Homo sapiens: one gene and its partners. The protein of the gene in region 1 interacts with the protein of each later gene in a biochemical or structural test. Each region holds a gene or a part of one and is shown on either strand. Other genes may lie near its edges.

Region 1 (4,890 bases):
CTGTGAACCCTACTCCATTGTGGTTTCTGCCACTATCAAAGTTCCAGCTACCTGCAAGGTGAAGGAAGGCATCCCTTTTGGGGCATGCACTTTCTTTCCTTTCTCAAAATAATGTTATATGTGGCCACACTGATGTTCACCTTTACGTCCAGGGTCTTTGTGCCTTGTCTCTACTCCCTCTCTTGGATCTGGGGAGGAGGGGCAGAGACCTGGGACTCTGTATTTCTATAGTTCTCCTGGCAGAGCCTTTGAGAATGGGGAGAAACAGCCTGGGCTGGGGCTACAGGTCTGTCACTATGCTCTCTTGCCTTCAGACAGACCATTCTGAATTCTCTAAAGGGAAAGGGCTTTTGCATCTAATCACAATAGAGTTGAAAGAGAGGCCTTAGGATTCTCCTCTCTCTAGGTGCTGAGCCCTCACCTCCCTGTTCCAGGCTGAGAACTCAAATGGTTACCCTGCTTCTTCCTACAATGCTGTGTGATATGGGTGAACCCAGCCCCTGACCTTCCTCTATCCCCTGCCCATCCTCCCTTTTACCTCCTCTCTTTTTTAAACACCTGTTTATCCCAACCTTTTTGAGCTCAAGCTGTGATAAAGAAGGGCCCATCCTATTTCCCCTCATCTAGTCCATTTACGATTCTCACTGACTCCCCGTCTTCCTGGCAGACACAAATAAACCCAGTGTCAGGTCTAGGAAATTAATGGCTATTCTTCCCCAGATACATTCTGGCTTATTTGAGATACATGATTCTCTTAGAATCCTGTCCCTTGGTTCAGGAAAGTAGCTTGGAAAAGGAGTAGGGGTATAGCTTGGGTCCCTTTTCCTGCAAGGCCCCATGGGGCAGAATATAATAAATATTCTGAGTGAGGAGTGTGGTCTTTTTCTGATCTTCCTCAGCTTCCGTAAGTTGCAGAGTGAGGTATATTAGGAGACTAGTTCTACACAATATTGTAATGCTGGGTTCCATCAACACCCACCTTCCACAACTCAGTCTGCACCTCAGTTGGCAAAGGAGACTGGATGGCCATCTTTCCTCATGTTCCCTTGAGTATTTCAATGTAGAAAGCCCTTCAAGTGGTATTATATTTTAACCTTTTACATTATTGTTATTAATGTTAGTAATATATTGTTATGTTTTCTAAATTATTTTTCTTTAAGCTGACGTGGCTTTTTTTCTGTGGCTCCCAGTGGGTCTACGGACCTTGGCTGACATATGTTGGTAGGTACTCTGGTCAGCTCAGCTGGCTGTCCTGGTTCACTCAGAAGATAAGTCTCTCCAAAGCAAATTCACATGCATTATGAGTCGCTTTGAGCTTCTGACATGTCACTTGCCCCGAGGTTAAAACTTTTCACCCCTTGAAGACCTTACATGTTTTATGGTATTGGTGAGGAAGGAAATGTTCTCAAGGTCTCAGGCTATTTGGGAAATTCCAACTCCTATACCTTACCAGAGCATGGAAGAGCCCAGATCTGAATGTAAAACGTCTCTGTTCTGCCAGAGATGGAAAAAATACAGGTATACTTGTGATATAGTCATGGGGCTTCAGTGTCACTATTTTCTCCTTAAAGCTCCAGCCAAAAACTGGACAAGGATAGAGAGGAGGAGGGAAGAACAAAAGAGCCCTTCTCTATGAACCTTGTGCCTTCTGTCCTACCAGTTTTCTTTTACAGATTCTCACTTCTGCTAGCCTAGCCAGGGCTTACTCCAGGAATCTAAATAGATGCCCTAGTCCACTTTATCTTTGTTCCCAAGGCACTCATTTTTATTTTGATTTTGATTGAATGTGAGCAGGTTGACCTCAGGTCACACTTTGTTCCAAAAACTTTTGGAATTATTCCAGGACTTGTGGTGGAGTTATGGTACTCTAGGGCAGTCTTTCTCAAACTATGTATGGTAAAGGACCAGGTTTTTTGTTTTCCAGTCCTTCACTTATCAATATGCATTCCTATTGCCCATGACAGGTATGGAGTTCACACTGTGTGCTGCCGACCCGGCAAGTTTGACAGCACCCAAACTGGCCAGACTGTTCTGTAGGTTAAGTCCATTGATCATGTACTTGGATATCACAGCAACATTGAAATGCTAAAAAGTTTTTAAACACTCTCAATTTCTAATTCACCATGTCACAGACTGGTGAAAAAAAAAAAAAGGTGTTCACTGACCAGCACAAGTCTGCAGATCATCTTTGAGTAGCACTGTTTTGGGGCCCTCGGTCTCTCTGAAGACCCTAGCAGAACTGATACCTACCTGTATCTCTTGTTCTCTCCTATTTGAGTTTCACTTCCAGAGAACTTGTTCTTCAGCAAGAATGTGTCACTAGTAAGGACATCTCTAGCATTTCTCTAGCCTTCCTTTTCTGCTGCTCAAAAATAATCGTTACAAAGCTTAGGTTTAAGCTGTATATGAAATATTTATGCGACTCTCAAACTTTAAAGGAGTTGCTCCTTTGTTCCAAAATTAAATGTGTTAGATAAATTTGTGATTGTATGGGTGGCTTCATGAATTAAGAATTGAATTAATACAGACTTTTTGATAATTGGGACATTTTCCTGTGACTCTGGAAGGTCTTGTCAAAGCCCCATGAGGCAGTTATAATATGATGTTAAGATGGCTTTGGGGAGCTAGGAGAAAACATTGGCCCATATTGAATGACGTGGAGACGGCAGACCATACAAAAAAGGACCAAAAGACTTAGAGGAAATGGGTATGCAAGAATGAATGTTATATAACACTGGTAAACCCACCAGCTGACTACCCCAGAAAGACCTGGGAATTATTTTTTAATAAAGACAATGGGAAAGGCACTGATGAAGGGTTACCAGCATCTTTGAGAAATTTAGAAGTGGCTGTCTCTCTAGATCGAAGCTGATACAAGATGTAAAAGAAACTGTTTTCCTAGTAGCAGTGGGGGAATGATAGGATCCTGACATAGCAGAGGCCAGGTGGCAACACTTAACTCTCAGAAGCAAGGTGAGTAAATTTCCTTAAGGGTAGCAAGGTCAAAGTGGAGATGGCTAACGGAATGTGAGTGGTCCTAGGAGCAGGATAGATGGGCAACCAAGAAGAGTATTGTCTTATATATAAGGGAGATCAAGAATGGTTGAACAGAAGGCTGAAGTCAGAAACTTCAAAGAAAAGTCCCCATTTCTTGTCCAGTTTTTAAGCCTGAGATAGTTCTTAGACTCATAAACTATCAATGGAAAGAGACATTTATCAGTTAATCATTGAGTGGAAAAGCACTGTTCATCCTCTGTTCTCACACCACAATGAGTGACACAGAACTCTTCTGTAATCACGTGTGGAATTCCCTCCCCTCAACAAGCAAGCAATTCTGCAGTGGATAACAGCTGGATATCCTCTAATTTACTTTAATTCTGACACTGTCTACCTGGAGACAGTGTCAGATCCCACAGGTTGACCAATCAATCACTGAGACTCTCCCCCCCAACTTCTGATGTCAATTGCAATTCCTGGGTTATTTTGCCTGTGCTATAAATCAGGGTGTCTACAGCCAGCTCCTTGGGTTTGGTTAATTTGTTAGAGTGGCCCACAAAACTTGGGGAAACACTTACTTACATATTTCAGTTTATTTAAAGGATATTACAATGAATATAGATGAAAACATGGCTGGACCCAGTGGCTCACGCTTGTAATCCCAACACTTTGGGAGGCCGAGGTGGGTGGATCACCTAAGGTCAGGAGTTCGAGACCAGCCTGGCGAACATAGTGAAACCCCGTCTCTATTAAAAAAATACAAAATTTAGCTGGGTGTGGTGGTGCATGCCTGTAGTCCCAGCTACTTGGGAAGCTGAGGAAGGAGAATTGCTTGAACTGGGGAGGCGGAGGTTGCAGTGAGCTGAGACTGTGCCACTGTACTCCAGCCTGGGCAACAGACAGAGCAAGACTCCATCTCTCAAAAAAAAAAAGATGAAAAGATGTATAAGGCAAGGTTGCAGAGCTTCCATTCCTTCTCTGGGCATGCCACCATTTAGGACAGCGGTCCCCAACATTCTTGGCACCAGGGACCAGTTTCATAGAAGACAAGTTTTCCACAGAGGGGGGTGGGGGGATGGTTTTGGGATGAAACTGTTCTACCTCGGATCATCAGGCATTAGCTAGATTCTCATAAGGGGCACACAACCTAGATCCCTCGCATGTGCAGTTCACAATAGGGTTTGCACTCCTCTGAGAATCTAGTGCCACTGCTGATCTGACAGGAGGTGGAGCTTAGGCGGTATTGCTGGCCCACCTGCCACTCACCTCCTGCTGTGAGGCCCAGTTCCTAACAAGCCATGGACTGGTACTGGTTCGTGGCCCAGGTGTTGGGGACCCCTCATTCTATAAACCCTCATGTGTTTGACATCTTGGAAGCTGTCTAGATCTTGTCTTTTTGGGTTTTTATGGAGGCTTTATATATAGGCATGATTAGCTGAACCATTGGCCATTGGTGATTAATTTAAAATTCAGCCCCTCTGTCCTCCCTAGAGGTTTGGGGGTGGGGTTGAAAGTTCCAACCCTCTAATACTGCTTTGGTCTTTTTGTTGACTGACCCTGAACCTGAAGCTACCTAGGGGATGCCAACCATCAGTCAACTCATTGGAATACAATAAGACATCACTTTGAAGATTTTAAGGATTTTAGAAGTTATATTCCAGGAAAAGGGGTTAAAGACCAAATACATATTTTACAATATCACAACCAAACACTGGGAAAAGAATATGCAGAAGTTTTTGACTTGGGAAACAGGGTTACAGGGTCTGAGTTGGCATTGATACCCAGGAACCTGAAGTACCACCACAGTGTCTTCCCCTCTCAACACCCCCAACCCTGCTCTCACAGTGGGTCCAAAAACCCACATTATGATCATTTCCCCCATTTCCAAATGTA
Region 2 (5,476 bases), on another chromosome or scaffold:
TATAATAACATTCTTGGCCTCTTTTATAGCTTTCACTTAAAGTCTATTTTACCTGACATTAGTATAGCTACTCCTGATGCCTTTTAGTTTTCATTTGGATAAAATATCTTTTGCATTCCTTCACTTTTAGTCTATATTGTCCTTGCAGATGAAGTGAGTCTCCTGTAAGCAGCGCACAGTTGGGTCTTGCTTTTTAATCCAGACACTGTCTTTTTTTTTTTTTTTTTTGAGACAGAGTCTTGCTTTGAAGCCCAGGCTGGAGTGCAGTGGTGTGATCTCAGCTCACTGCAACCTCTGCTTCCAGGTTCAAGTGATTCTCCTGCCTCAGCCTCCTTAGTAGCTAGGATTACAGGGGTCCACCACAAAACCCAGCTATTTTTTTTTTTAGTAGAGACGGGGTTTCACCATGTTGGCCAGGCTGGTCTCAAACTCCTGACCTCAAGTGATCTGCCCACCTCAGCCTCCAAAAGCACTGAGATTACAGACGTGAGCCACTGCACCTGGCCCAGAAACTATGTGTTTTAATTGGAGAACTTAATCCATTAATATTCAAGGTAATTATTAATAGGTAAGGAATTACTCCTGTCATTTTGTTAATTGCTTTCTAGTTGTTTTGTAGATATTTTCTTCCTTTTTTCTTCTCACAGTCTTTCTTTGTGGGTAAGTGATTTTCTTTAGTAATATGCTTTGATTCCTTGCTTTTTATTTTTAGTGCGTCTACTACAGATTTTTGCTCTGTAGTTACCATGAGGCTTACCAAAAACATCTTATAGTTAAACATGTTATTTTTGTACCTATTATATGTTTTTGCTTCATGGTTACCATGAGGCTTATAAAAACATCTTATAACATGTTATTTTAAGTTCATAACAACTTTAATTTAATTGCAAAAAAGGCACAATCTTTACCCTTTATCTCCCCATTTTGAATTTTTAATATCACAATTTACATCTTTTTATATTGTATATATGTTAACAGATTATTTTAGTTGTTAAAGTATATACAAATTGCAAAAAAACACAACCTTTACCCTTCATCTCCCCATTTTGAATTTTTAGTGTCACAATTTACATCTTTTTATATTGTATATACTTTAACAAATTATTTTAATGGTTATAATTTTTAATAGTTTTGTCTTTTTGTCTTCATACTAAAGAAATAAGTGATTTACCAATAGCAAAGACTTGGAACCAACCCAAATGTCCATCAATGATAGACTGGATTAAGAAAATGTGGCACATATACACCATGGAATACTATGCAGCCATAAAAAAGGATGAGTTCATGTCCTTTGTAGGGACATGGATGAAGCTGGAAACCATCATTCTCAGCAAACTATCACAAGGACAAAAAACCAAACACCACATGTTCTCACTCATAGGTGGGAAGTGAACAATGAGAACACTTGGACACAGGAAGGGGAACATCACACACCGGGGCCTGTTGTGGGGTGGGGGCAGCAGGGAGAGATAGCATTAGGAGATATACCTAATGTAAATGATGAGTTAATGGGTGCAGCACACCAACATGGCACACGTATACGTATGTAACAAACCTGCACATTGTGCACATGTACCCTAGAACTTAAAGTATAATAAAAAAAAGAAATAAGTGATTTACATAACCCCTTTATATTATTTGAGTATTCTGAATTTGACTGTTTACTTGCTTTTACCAGTGAGTTTTATACTTTCTAATGTTTTCTTATTACCCATTAGCATCATTTCTTTCAATGTGAAGAACTCCCTTTAGTACTCCTTATAAGACATATCTGGTGGTGATAAAGCCCCTCAGCTTAGTTTGTGTGGGAAAGTCTATCTCTTTCATTTCCAAAGGACAATTTTGCTAAGAACAGAATTCTTGGCTGAAAGGTTTTTTCCCTTCAGCACGTTGAATATGTAATTCCATTCTCTCCTGGCCTGTGAGGTTTCTGCTGAAAAAGCTGGTAACAGTCATATTAGAACTCCCTTATGTGTTATTTTTTTTTCTTGCTTTCAGGTTTCTCTCTTTGTCTTTGGTTTTTGGCAGTTTGATTGTAATATATCATCGGGTAGTCTTATTTGGATTGAGTATGATTGAAGACTTTTGACCTTCCTGTACCTAGATAGTTATATGTCTCCAGATTTTGAAATGTTTCTGCTATGATTTATTTAAATAAGCTTTATAAATCTTTATCTTTCTTAACTCCTTCTTGAATACCAACAACTCATATATTTCCTTTTTTTTTTTTTTTTTTTTTTTGGAGCTGGAGTCTCACTCTTGTCACCCAGGCTGGAGTGCAATGGTGTGATCTTAGCTCACTGCAACCTCCGCTTCCTGGATTCAAGCAATTCTCCTGCCCTGCCTCAGCATCCCAAATAGCTGAGAGTACAGGCACACACCACCACGCTGGGCTAATTTTGTATTTTTAGTAGAGACAGGGTTTCACCAGGTTGGTCAGGCTGGTCTTGAACTCCTGACCTCACATTATCCACCCACCTCAGCCTCCCGAAGTGATGGGATTACAGGCATGAGCCACCATGTCCAGGCGACATTTGCTCTTTTGATGCTATTCCATAAGTCCCATAAGCTTTCTTCATTCCTTTTCATTCTTTCTTCATATCATAAGTTTGCAAGTAACCTGTTTTCAAGTTCACATATTTTTTTCTTCTGTTTGATAAATTCTGCTATTGATGTCTCCATTGCATTTTTAATTTTTTTCATTGTATTTTTCAGCTCCAGCATTTCTGGCTTTTTTCCCATTATTTCATATCTGTTGCATTTCTCTAATAGATTTCTGAATTGTTTCTCTGTATTTTATTGAAGTGCGCTGTATTAGTTCATTTTCATACTGCTATAAAGAACTGCCTGAGACTGGATAATTTATAAAGAAAAGAGGCTTAATTGACTCACAGTTCAGGATGGCTGGGGAGGCCTCAGAAAACTTATGATCGTGGCAGAAGGTGAGGGGGAAGCAAAGCACCTTATTCACAAGGTGGCAGGAAGGAGAATGAACTCAGGAGGAACTACAAAACACTTATAATACCATCAGATCTCAAGAGAATTCAATCACTATCATGAGAACAACATGGGGGAAACCCCATCATGATCCAATTGCCTCCACCTGGTCTTTCCCTTGACACGTGGAGATTTTGGGGAATACAATTCAAGATAAGATTTTGGGTAAGGAAACAGCCAAACTGTATCATTTCGCCCTGGCCCCTCCCAAATCTTATGTCCTCACTTTCAAAACATAATCATGCCCTTCCAACAGCCCCTCAATGTCTTAACTCATTCCAGCATTAACCCAAGAGTCCAAGTCCAAAGTTAGTTACTTCCTAGATATAATGGGGGTACATGAAATGGGCAAATACACCCATTCCAAATTGGCCAAAAAGAAGGGGCTATAGGCCCTGTGCAAATCCTAAATCCAGTGGATCAGTCAAATCTTAAAGCTCTGAAATAATCTTTAACTCCATATCTCACATCCAGGTGCTGCTGATGCAAGAGTTGGGCTCCCATAGCCTTGGGCTGCTCACCCCTGTAGCTTTGCAGGGTATGGCTGCTTTCATGGGCTGGCATTGAGTGTCTGCTGCTTTTCCAGGTGCATGGTGCAAGCTGTTAGTGGATCTACCATTCTGTGGTCTGGGGGATGGTGGCCCTCTTCTCACAGCTCCACTAGGCAATGCCCCAGTGGGGGCTCTGACCTCACATTTTCCTTCTGCACTACCCTAGCAATGGTTCTCCATAAGGGCTCTGACCCTGCAGCAAACTTCTGCCTGGACATCCAGGTGTTTCCATACATCCTCTGAAATCTAGGCAGAGCTTTCCAAACCTCATTTCTTGACTTCTGTGCACCACAGGTCCAACCACCAAGGACTGGGGCTTGTACCCTCAGAAGGAATGGCCTGAGCTGTACCTTGGCCCATTTTAGCCACAGCTGGGACATAGGGCACCAAGTCCTGAGACTGCACAAAGCAGCAAGTTCCTGGACCTGGCCCAGGAAACCATTTTTACCTCCTATGCCTCCAGGGCTGCCATGAAGACCACTTACATGCCTTGGAGACATTTTCCCCATTGTCTTGGTGATTAACATTTGGTTCCTCATTACTTATGCAAATTTCTGCAGCTGGCTTGAATTTCTCCCAAGAAAAGGGGTTTTTCTTTTCCATTGCATCGCCAGGCTGTAAATTTTCTAAACTTTTATGCTCTGCTTTCCTTTCAAACATAAGTTCCAATTCCAAATCATCTCTTTGTGAAGCATAAAACTGAACACTTTTAAGAGCACCCAGATTACATCTTAAATGCTTTGCTGCTTAGAAATTTCTTCTGCCTAAATCATCTCTCTCAAGTTCAAAGTTCCATAGACCTCTAGGGCAGGGGCAAAATGCCACCAGTCTCTGCTAAAACATAGCAAGAGTCAGCTTTGCTCTAGTTCCCAAGAAGATTCTCATCTTCATCTGAGACTACTTCAGCCTGGCCTTCACTGCTCATATTACTATCAGCATTTTGGTCAAAGCAATTCAATAAGTCCCTAGGAAATTCCAAACTTTCCCACATCTTCCCATCTTCTGAGCCCTCAAAATTGTTTCAATCTCTGCCTGTTACCCAGTTCCAAAGTCACTTCCACATTTTTGGGAATCTTTTTTTTTTTTTTTGAGACAGAGTCTCACTCTGTCACCCAGGTTGGAGTGCAGTGGTGTGATCTTGGCTCACTGCAACATCTGCCTCCTGGGTTCAAGCAATTCCCTGCCTCAGCCTCCTGAGTAGCTGGGATTACAGGCACCCGCCTTCACGCCCAGCTAATTTTTGTATTTTTGTGGAGATGGGGTTTCACCATCTTGGCCAGGCTGGTCTTGAACTCCTGACCTCATGATCCACCTGCCTCAGACTCCCAAAGTGCTGGGATTACAGGCATGAGCCACCATGTTAGGCCTGGGTATCTTTATAGCAGCACCCCATCTACCAGTACCAATTTACTGTATTAGTCTGTTTTCATATCGCTATAAAGAACTGCCCTAGACCGGGTAATTTATAAAGGAAAAAGGGTTTAATTGACTCACAGTTCAGCATGGCTGGGGAGGCCTCAGGAAACTTACAATCATGGTGGAAGGCAAACGGGAAGAAAGGCACCTTCTTCACAAGGCAGCAAGAAAGAGAACGAACACAGGAGGAACTACCAAACACTTATAAAACCACCAGATCTCATGAAAACTCACTCATTATTATGAGAACAGCATGGGGAAAACCACCCCCATGATCCAACTGCCTACGCCTTGTCTCTTCCTTGACACATGGGGCTTATGGGGATTACAATTCAAAATGAGATTTTGGGTGGGGATGCAGAAAAACCATATTATTCATTAAGCTTACTTTAAAAACAACTATTTTAATTTTTTTGTCAGGCAGGTCAAACATCTCCATCTTTTTAGAGTCAGTCACTGGCACTTTATTCTGTCCATTTGGTGAGTCCCATTTCCCTGATTGTTCTTGATCC
Region 3 (5,297 bases), on another chromosome or scaffold:
TCAGCCACCCAGTAAAAATCAAAAAATCTGGTATGCTGTTTGTACAATTGGTGGCAGGTGGTTAGAAGAACGATGCTATGATTTGTTTCGAAACCATCATTTAGCATCATTTGGGAAAGTCAAGCAGTGTGTGAATTTTGTGATTGGACTTTTGAAATTAGGTGGGCTGATTAATTTTTTGATTTTCCTTCAGAGGGGAAAGTTTGCAACTTTGACAGAACGTCTCCTAGGTATTCATTCTGTATTTTGCAAGCCTCAAAACATATGTGAAGTTGGCTTTGAATACATGAATAGGGAACTTCTCTGGCATGGTTTTGCTGAATTTCTGATTTTTCTCTTACCACTTATCAATGTCCAGAAGTTGAAAGCCAAGCTGTCTTCATGGTGTATTCCTCTTACTGGTGCACCTAATAGTGACAATACATTAGCCACCAGTGGCAAAGAATGCGCTCTATGTGGAGAGTGGCCCACCATGCCTCACACCATAGGATGTGAGCATATTTTCTGTTATTTCTGTGCTAAGAGTAGTTTCTTATTTGACGTGTACTTTACTTGTCCTAAGTGTGGCACAGAAGTACACAGTCTGCAGCCACTGAAATCAGGAATCGAGATGTCAGAAGTAAATGCTCTTTAGAAACTAAAATTGCTTCCTTTGAGGAAAAAAATGCACCGTGTTTAAATTCTTAATATTAGTCATCCTAAGTATACCATTTATGTATCCTTTATAAGGAATGTGCTCCTAGCCACTGTCTTCTCCTTTCCAGGCATGACTGAAATCTAATCACTGGAAACCATGTGATTCTAAATATATTATGTAAATGTTAATGTATTATGTTTTTTAAATCATTGCATTCAATTTTTAATGTCAAGAATAATGGACAGCTTTTGTCAGGTGACTACTAACAATGCTCCTTCATTTTACTACTTCTTAAAACAAGGTTGGATTCTAAAGATAAAGATTTTGGAGACTCTGGGATGAGTGTGCATTTATTTTCAGAGTTGACATAATATGATAATGTGACAATTATGAGACTGTTTTAAACCTTAAGACCTGATGCCTCAGTTGTAACTTTTTTTTTTTTTTCTGAGACGGTGTCCTGCTCTGTCACCCAGGCTGGAGTGCAGTGGCGCGATCTCTGCTCACTGCAACGTCCGCCTCCCGGGTTCAAGCAATTCTCCTGCCTCAGCCTCCCGAGTAGCTGGCACTGCAGGTGCATGCCACCATGCCCGGGTAATTTTTGTATTTTTAGTAGAGATGGGGTTCACTGTGTTAGCCAGGATGGTCTCTATCTCCTGATCTGGTGATCCACCTGCGTCAGCCTCCCAAAGTGCTGAGATTACAGACGTGAGCCACTGTGCTTGGCCGCCTCAGTTGTAATGTTATGCTTTTCTCTGAAGCCAATTTTTAAGAAGTTCAGTCCTCAGCTGTCTGACCCCTCCACAGTTGGCTTTATATTCAGAAAGTAAAAATTACTTAAGGCAGCTTGGAAGTGAGGCCTGGGAACTACTGGGGGCAACTAGTATGAACAGCACTATTTACAGGTCTCTTTCTCTTGCCTTTGATTCAGAGCTGTCATTCTCAGTAAATATTGATAGTTTTATTGAAACAAAAGGGGTCTTTAGCATGGGAATAGTAACAGCAGTGCATAATCAAGATAATTCTGTATCCTTCACTCTTTTTCTCTGCCTTTTTTTACTTAAAAGTAAATTCAGACTCTTAAAATGGTATAGAATTATTAGCTTGAACATTGAATTATCTCGTCTTAACTAGAATGTTTTTTAAAAAACAGTTTTTAAATGTTTTTAAATAAACATCTTGCTAGTATGATGGAAATACACTGCCAGTTCATTTTTCTCTTCACCTTTCATTGAACAAGTACTCAGGTGCCAGGTACTGATGTAGCCATTAGAGGCACAACAGTATATTAAGCAGGAAAAATCAAGTTACCTTCATGGAGTTTACATTCTGTGATTGAATGAACTGTAAGTTTAATTTAGGTTCAATTTAGTGTAAGATACTGAAGAAGTTTTGTAGTTTGAGTTAAGAGTATTTTACATCTTAAGAATTTGCCTTCTTTTGCCTTCTGTAATTTTAAAACATTATTGTAGAAAACACCAACAATTCAGGAAAAAATATAAAATCAACTTTCCCACAATTTTTTGAGAGAGATCATCACTATATTTTACTATATTTGTAGATTTGTTGCACGTACATTTCTTATTTACAAAATTATTATAATGCATAAAAAATAGCATTTTTTCCTATGTATAAATATTCTTCAAAACTATTTTAGGGCTGAGCACAATGGCTCATGCCTGTAATCCCAGGCTCCCTACTTAGGGAGGCTGAGCCCAGGAGTTTGAGTTCGTTTCTAAAAAAATAAAAATATATACAAACGTCTTTGTTTTTTGTTTGTTTGTTTGTTTTTGGTGAGAAAGGGCCTCACCCAGTCACCCAGGTTGGAGTGCAGTGGTGTGATCATGGCTAACCGCAGCCTTTCCCTCCCAGGGCTCAAGCGATCCTCCCATCTGAGCCTCCCAAGTTGCTGGGACCACAGGCCCATACCACCATGCCTGGCTAATTTTTGTAGAGATGAGGTCTCACTTTGTTGCCCAGGCTGGTCTTGAACTTCTGGGCTCAAGCAGTCCTCCTACCCTGGCCTCCCAAAGTTGTGGGATTACAGGCATGAGCCACTGCACCCAGCCATAATATATTTTTAAAATGCTATGTATATGCCATCATATTCCTATTCCTATTATTATTTAACCACCATCATAGAGCATTTAGGTTCTTTTCACTTTCTGTTGTGAATAATGCAATGTTGAATCTGAGTTCATTAAGTGAAGAGTCCAGCTGCACACTGCAGGCCCAGTCTGGATGTAGGTGCTCAGATGGTTCTCTTTGAGACAGGCTTTATCCTTTGGCTCTCATTTTTTTGATGAGTGTACATGGCATGAGGGACACAGATTCCGCTAGAATTCAAATCCCACTTGTGTATAACCTAGGGCAATGTGCCACATCTCTGCACATCTGTTCATTGTAAGGATTACATGTTTAGTGTATATAAAGCTCTTAAAACAATGCCTGACACATAGTAAATAGAATATAATAGTAGTGCTTTCCTTTGCTGTTGTCAGTATTACTCTGAGTCGGTTTCATTCTCACACAGAATGATGGCCGCTAGAAGCTCAAGGCTTATAATCTGCTAGCTTTCTGATCCCACTGGCATGAGATACTCTTGCCTAATAGTTACAGCTAAAGTCCAGGAGCTCACTGTTACTGGTCTGCCTTGGATTATGTGCACATTCCTGAACCAGCCACTATAGCTAGGGGATGGAAAATACTGTTCCTGGTTACTTAAATGTAGGTGATGCTCCTCCCATATACCACATGAACCTAAAGGAGTCCTGGAGGAGGCCGTTCACCACAGGAAACTGAGGTGTTCTTAGAAGGGTGGATGCTGGCAGATCTCTACTAGTTAGAGTCTACATTTGCCTTACTCATTTCAAAAGTCCACATTGCAGTCTCATTTTACCAGTGATCTAGCTTGATAAGGACATTCATAAGTAACTGGATGATTCTTTAACATTGCAGATTTGAAAGGATTAAATAAAGTCAACAAAATTGTTATATCAACAATTGTATTATTTTGATAGAGTAACTTCTAAGTAGTTATCCATATTCTCAAAATCTTAAGAAAACAGTACTTTACATATATGCCAGCTGATAGACTTGTCAGTATTGGGGTAGGGGGTGGTTTTTTTCCACAGACCCTAATGGCACTTAGTAAAAATAGGTTTTTATTATTTTTCATTTTTATTTAACATCTGCCACCCCTACTAGGTGATAACCCCCATGAGTTCAGAGACCATGACTATTTTGTTCATCACTAGATAGCCAGAGCCTTTTAGTTCTAGTGTAGCAATAGAAACATTTTATTAGCTGAATAAACCTAAGGTCGCAGATAGGGTTCTGCAGAAGCTGGCGTTGAAAGGGGTTTGAAGTACAAGAGATTTTTATGTATAACTCTCAGGGATCCATGCCTGTGAAGGGAAAGAGCAAAGCAGGAATAGGCAGAAGAAATGAGAGTACTCTAAAGCAGGCCTGAAAAAAGTTGGCCAGCCCAGAGGGGAGCTCTGAGCTAGTGTCATCTGTCAGAATGTCCTAAATTAGGCCAAAGTAAATAGGCCTTTTTACCTACACTTCTGTCAGTCACTGGGTGTGGGCAGCTCTGGGAAGGTTGTGATCTCAAGCATGGCAGCTCTGTAGCGGAAGCAGATCCTGTGGGAGCCAACAGCTGGAGGCAGTCCACTGACCACATTCCACAGCTGGGCACCATGTACATCCTTGCAGGAGGAGCCAGGTGGCATATCTTGGTGTGTACCACATCTAATACTGTCCATTTTTTCCTTTCTGGTTTCCTTTTTTTTTGTTTTTCTTGCATATAGTACACTGGACAAACAACACACTAATGCCAGGTAGTGTTCGTTTATAAACAATAGATTTATGACTGACACACCCAAGTGTCTCTTGAGTATCTCTGCCCCACTACAAATACCAGACTTCTTGGCCAAGTTGCTATGACAGCCCCCAGGAACTCCATTCAGTCTCTGCCTCTCTGGGCACTGCCAGAAGAGTTGCTATACCTCTGGTGCGACTGTTTCTACTCCCCAGCAGGCTCCAGGCTCAAGCTTTAGGAAAACTGGATGGGATTTAGCTACATGATATGTTTCCATGTTAGCCTCAAGTATGTAACCATCAGTTACAAGTGTTCTTCCTTAGGAAAATAAAAACATTTACACTTAACATTTTTCTTTTCTCTCCCTTGCACTTGCTCTCAAATCAAGTTTGCTACTTTTGTATTTAAAGTACCCAAGTGACTTCAGTGATCATATCTAAATTACTCAGATATCAATCAGAGCTCACACAAGGCATGTCCTACTACTTTGCTCTCAGCTCCCCTGCTTTCAGTATTTAGTGACTGGATTTGGGACAAGTTCATTTAACTTAAGATTCAATTTGTTCACCTATGAAATGGACATTCAATAATGTCTACCTGTTAGAATTCTAATGGGAATTAAATAAAGCATTCTCTCAAAAATTATCTATTGAGCCCCTGCAGACATTCCTTTTCCGTACTCAGGGAATGCATTCATGAATACCACAAAACACCTGCTCTCATGGAGTTTACATTCTTAGAGGGGTGATAAATAATAAAGATAATTTCAAATGTTAGTAGTACTCTGAAGAAAATAAAACAGGCTTTGAAATGGGGAGTGATAGGGGTTGCTGTATT
Region 4 (5,476 bases), on another chromosome or scaffold:
GAGGGTGGTTTCCAGTGATTTCCAGTCTCTGCTGCTCCAATTTTGTCTATTTCTACACTTTTAATAGCCTCAAAGCACTCTGGGTCAAAGGTCAACATTCTACCACTGGAAAAGATCTGGTAGTTGGGTTTGTTGCAGGTAACAAGGTTTTCTGGGTATAAAATGTTTTTATATTTACCTTGTGGTTTTATATCCTCTAAGAGGTTATTTAGCCCAAAGTAATGCTTACAAAGAATATAGCCAGTTTTCCAACTTGGTTTTTTTTTTTTTAATTGTGTTAAAAAACGTGACATAAAATTTACCATGTTAATTTTAAGTGTAAGGTCAGTAGTGTTAAACATGTTCACAATGTTATGAAACAAATCTCCAGTACTTTTGCATATTGCAGACCTGATTCTATTCTCATTAAACTCCCCTTTTCCCTTTCCCTGAGCCCCTTAGTAACCACCATTCTACTTTCGGTTTCTAAGAATTTGACTACTTTAGATACTTGATATAAGTCGAATCATACACTACTTGTTTTTTTTGTGACTGGCTTACTTCACTTAGTATAATGTCTTCTACTTTCATCCATGCCATACAGCATGTGACATGACTTCCTTACTTTTTTATGACTGAATAATATTCCATTATATGTATATATCACATTCTGTTTATCCATTCATCTGTTAATAGGCACTTAAGTTGCTTCCATCTTTTGGCTGTTGTGAATAGTGCTATGAAAATGGATGTGTAGCTCTCTCTTTGAGAGCCTGCTTTCCATTCTTCTGGATATATACCCAGAAGTGGGATTGCTGGATCATTTGGAATTCTGTTCAGTTTTCTCGGGAACCTCCATACTGTTTTCCATAACACTGTAACATTTATAATCCCACCAACAGTACACAGAAGTTCCCATATTTCCACATCCTCACTAACACTTACTTTCTGTTTTATGATAGTAGCCATCCTAATGGGTATGAGGTGATATCTCACTGTGGCTTTGATTTGCATTTCTCTGATGATTAGTGATGCTGAACATCACTTTTCATATGTTTGTTGGCCATTTGTATATTATCTTTGCAGAAATGTCTGTTCTGGTTCTTTGTCTATTTTTTAATCAGGTTATTACATTTTTTTGCTCTGAAGTTGTAGGATGTCTGTATGTGGTATAATAAAAAATGTATGTGGCCTTTGTCCCTGGTTCCTGGCACAGTTCCTAAAACCATTGGAATTTCCTGAGTAGTAGTATCTTTTGTTATTCCTAATGAGCCCCTTTGAACTATCTCTGAGTTTAGGCTAATAAAGTTACTATTGGTGGGCTCCTAGATAGCTTCAGGATGGAGGCTGGTGGCCAGAGGAACCAGCCATGTGCTTAGAGAGAAGGGGAGAGAAGTTGAATTTTGGATAAATAACTCAGGATAGAAGTCTAGGAGTCATCACAGGCTCTTCGTGCCTTCCCACCCTCCACATCTGCTTGGCCATCAAGAACCACTGGTCTGTCTCCTCACTGTCTCTTGGATCCATTTCCTCTTCTCCATATCCATAGCCATTTCCCCAAATCAAACCTTATCATTGCTCACCTGGACTATTGCACTATAGTCTGATCTTCCCTTTGAGGTCTTCCTCATGAACCCACTTTGCACAGTTTTGCAGCCTTTCTAGGAGAGTAGTTTTCAAAGAGTATCACGACTCAAAGAACTCAAGTTTGAGATTTGTTCACTTGGGGAAAAAAATTAGAATAGTTCCTGTACAGAAAAAGACTTGTTTTTTACATAAATTACAACAAATGGCAATCTAGTGGGATCTTCTATACTTGAGACCAGTTATTTGTAATACTTTGATTTTAATCATTTTAGATTAGTTTATATGTATTTGCATTTGAAAGATTATAACTTACAGGGACTAACTCATATAACTTTCCATGAAACTTCTAATTCATGGACTATATGTTGAAATCTTTTGCTTTTTAAATTGTCCAAAGCGGTTTATTTGCTGTGTCTGCCATCCCATTACCCACCAGATATATACCACCCCTGTGTTACTCTCTCTGTCCTGTTCATCTTTCTAACTCTTAGTGCAATTTAGGATTACAGCAGACTCCCCCATACCTAACACAGCTGGACTGGTATAGTAGGGCAGTTAGCTTTCATTTTTTACTTTTTTCCACTTGTCTAAAATTTTTTTTTCAGGGCTCATGAACAATTTTTTTCTTTTTTTTTTCAGGGCTCAATTTTAAAAAGTCAGTTAAAGTAACACATATAATAAATAGCCTACTAACCTTAATTGTTGTATTTTAACTTTAAAGTTCACTCTTCCACTTTTTTTTTTTTTTTTTTTTTTGAGATTGTGTCTCACTCTGTTGCCCAGGCTGGAGTGCAGTGGCATAATCTTGGATTGCTGCAACCTCCACCTCCTGGGTTCAAGCAATTTTCCTACCTCAGCCACCTGAGTAGCTGGGATTACAGGCACCCACCACCATGCCCAGCTAATTTTTTATATTTTTAGTAAAGATAGGGTTTCACCATGTTGGCCAGGCTGGTCTCAAACTCCTGACCTCAGGTGATCTGCCTGCCTCGGCCTCCCAAAGTGCTGGGATTACAGGCGTGAGCCACCGCGCCCAGCCTAAAGTGTTTTCTTGAGTGTGTGAGAAGGGGGTAGGATTACAGTTGACACATAGGAGAGTCTACGGGTCTGTGTTGACTGTGAGCATCATCTGTTGTCTTGTCAGAAAATGGTCCAAGGCCAGGTGTGGTGGCTCACCCCTGTAATCCCAGCAGTTTGGGAGGTCAAGGCAGGAGGATCACTTGAGCCCGCAGTTTGAGACCAGCCTGGGCAACATAGCAAGACCCCATCTCTATAAAAAATAAATTTTAGACCAGGCGCGGTGGCTCACGCCTGTAATCCCAGCACTTTGAGAGGCTGAGGCGGGTGTATCACCTGAGGTCAGGAGTTCGAGAACAGCCTAGCCTACATGGTGAAACCCCACCTTTACTGAAAATACAAAAAATTAGCCAGGTGTGGTAGCAGGTGCCTGTAATTCCACCTACTTGGGAGACTGAGGCAGGAGAATTGTTTGAACCTGGCAGGCAGAGGTTGCAGTGAGCCAAGATCATGCCACTGCACTCCAGCCTGGGCAACAAGAGGGAAACTCTACCTCTAAATAAACAAACAAACATAAAATATTTTAAAAGGTAGGGAAAGAAGGAAAGAAAGAAAATGAAAATGGTTGGGAGACCCAGCTCCTGAGTCGCTGGCATCAGGGATCCTCCGTGGCGTGTCATCGGCATCGTCGGGCCCCTGGTGCACCCCCGCGGCAGACAGAGCTCACGCCCCTTCCCACCCCGTGGCTGGTCCGGGGTCCGGGCACCGCGTGGACGGTGTCTCTGTAGGACGCAGGGACCGGGCTGCAGCCCATGCCTCGAGCAGACTGCATTACGAAGCATCTGTCATACTCCTGCCGGGACCAAGTGGTATGGGGCTTCGGCCGTGGCTACAAGCAGCTGGGCATCCCCCACAGCTAATTTTCCTGAGCAAGTGGTAGATAATCTGCCAGCCGATATATCCAGTGGCATTTATTATGGTTGGGCCAGTGCTGGAAGTAGAGATGGTCAGAAGATGGTGGTGAGCATAGGATGGAACCCATACTATGAGAATACGAAGAAGTCCATGGAAACACATACCATGCATACCTTCAAAGAGCACTTCTATGGGGAAATCCTGAGTGTGGCCGTTGTTGGCTACCTCAGACCAGAAAAGAACTTTGATTCATGAGAGTCACTTATTTCAGCAATTCAAGGTGATTTTTGAGGAAGCTAAGAAATGACTAGATTTACCAGAACATTTGAAACTCAAAGAAGATAATTTCTTCCAGGTTTCTAAAAGCAAAATAATGAATGGCCACTGATGAAAAATCATATTATTTATTCATTCACTGTCTTCCAGTATTTCAGTGTTTTGTTTTGTTTTTATTTTATTTTATTTTAAGTTTTTGAGATGGAGTCTCGCTCTCTCTCCCAGGCTGGAGTGCAGTGGCGTGATCTTGGCTCACTGTGACCTCTGCCTCCCAGGTTCAAGTGATTCTGCTGCCTCAGCCTCCTGAGTAGCTGGAATTACAGGCGCACACCACCACGCCTGGCTAATTTTTGTATTTTTAGTAGATATGGAGTTTCACCATGTTGGTCAGGCTGGTCTCGAACTCCTGACCTCGTGATCTGTCTGCGTTGGCCTCCCAAAGTGCTGGGATTATAGGCATGAGCCGCAACGCCCGGCCCAGTGTTTATTATTGTCCAGCCTCATCTTGGTTATATTTCAAAAATCAAACATTTTCCTACAGCTGTGAATTAGTTTAAACAGTACAATGTAGTTACCATATCATGCTTCATCTGTTAAATTAAGCCCATCATGTCATAGCACTAAAAAGATTCATTTAAAAATCAAGATTTAAAAAATATATATTGATTAAGATGTACCACTAGGAAGGTATTACATGCGTATAAGTATGGGTAAAAAGGCAAGTCACTAGTTTGTGATGAAAAGTGAAATTTTCATGGTAAAATACCAGAATGTATGTACTTGTGTAGTGCGTACTTCTAAATAGAGAAGGCTTATAAAAGTAAACAGATTAAGGCCAAGTGCAGTGGCTCACGCCTGTAATCCCAGCACTTTGGGAGGCCAAGGTGGGAGGATTGCTTGAGCTCCGGAGTTCAAGACCAATCTCGGCAACATAGCGAGACCCCATCTCTATAAATAAAACAAAAGTAAATGCATTAAATGGAAGGTTGACAGTTTATCATAAACCTACAAAGATGTTTGTAAAATTTTGTTTTAGTCATTTTCTTTGAACTCACATCATTATACCATCTTCATTTTTGTATGGAGCTGGTTCAATTCTAAGTCCTCTAGACTTTCCCTGCCTATCTTTGTTGTTGTTGTTGTTGTTGTCGAAGACAGTAAAATAAGTGTTTTTCAAGTCTAAAAAAAAAAGAAGAAAAGAAAACTGTCAAGAACTGCTATTCTGAAACTCTAAGTCTGTTTTATCCCTGCTTAAAAGCTTTCAGTATCTGTTCCTTGCATGCAGCTTGGCACCTTCAGTATACCAGACTCCTGCTGGTATACTTTTATAGGATAAAAGCCTGACATATCTTATCTGCTGTGATACAAATTACCTCAAGCTTGATCTTTACTGATCTTGACTGCAGACACCACAGCACGCTGAGCCCTTGTAACAGGTAGGCTACTCGCTAGGATGCCTGTGCTCTTCCACTTCTAGTAACTGAGTTTTACGCTTACCAAGAGTGAACTGTTTATTCTCAAATCTGCTTATGCCAGTTGCATCTGTTACTGTAGGGAAAGCATTATGGTATGGGTGTACTTCCATGCCAATCTGTGAGTCTTTGACTGTACCAAGCCATGTAGTAACCCCATTCCTCTACAGCAACTGTGGTCTGTCTGACAACAGTCTTACTGCTTATTTCATCTTATTAACTCCCATTCA

What was found. The genes of interacting proteins can lie anywhere in the genome.
Region 2: the proteins of PEX19 (region 1) and ABCD2 form a complex in vitro, tested with the Homo sapiens proteins (3 studies listed by BioGRID and IntAct, with this or other methods).
Region 3: the proteins of PEX19 (region 1) and PEX2 interact in a test that uses a peptide from one of them, tested with the Homo sapiens proteins (one study listed by IntAct).
Region 4: the proteins of PEX19 (region 1) and SLC25A17 form a complex in vitro, tested with the Homo sapiens proteins (one study listed by BioGRID and IntAct).

Annotation. Positions count from the first base shown.
Region 1 is NC_000001.11:160,274,462-160,279,351, reverse strand, and holds the end of PEX19 (peroxisomal biogenesis factor 19), read left to right. Parts: 3' UTR 1-2,545; downstream 2,546-4,890. UniProt on the Homo sapiens protein: Necessary for early peroxisomal biogenesis. Acts both as a cytosolic chaperone and as an import receptor for peroxisomal membrane proteins (PMPs).
Region 2 is NC_000012.12:39,556,144-39,561,619, reverse strand, and holds part of ABCD2 (ATP-binding cassette sub-family D member 2), read left to right. Parts: intron 1-5,476.
Region 3 is NC_000008.11:76,978,598-76,983,894, reverse strand, and holds the end of PEX2 (peroxisome biogenesis factor 2), read left to right. Parts: coding exon 1-634; 3' UTR 635-3,637; downstream 3,638-5,297. UniProt on the Homo sapiens protein: E3 ubiquitin-protein ligase component of a retrotranslocation channel required for peroxisome organization by mediating export of the PEX5 receptor from peroxisomes to the cytosol, thereby promoting PEX5 recycling.
Region 4 is NC_000022.11:40,787,187-40,792,662, reverse strand, and holds part of SLC25A17 (peroxisomal membrane protein PMP34), read left to right. Parts: coding exon 1-138; intron 139-5,476.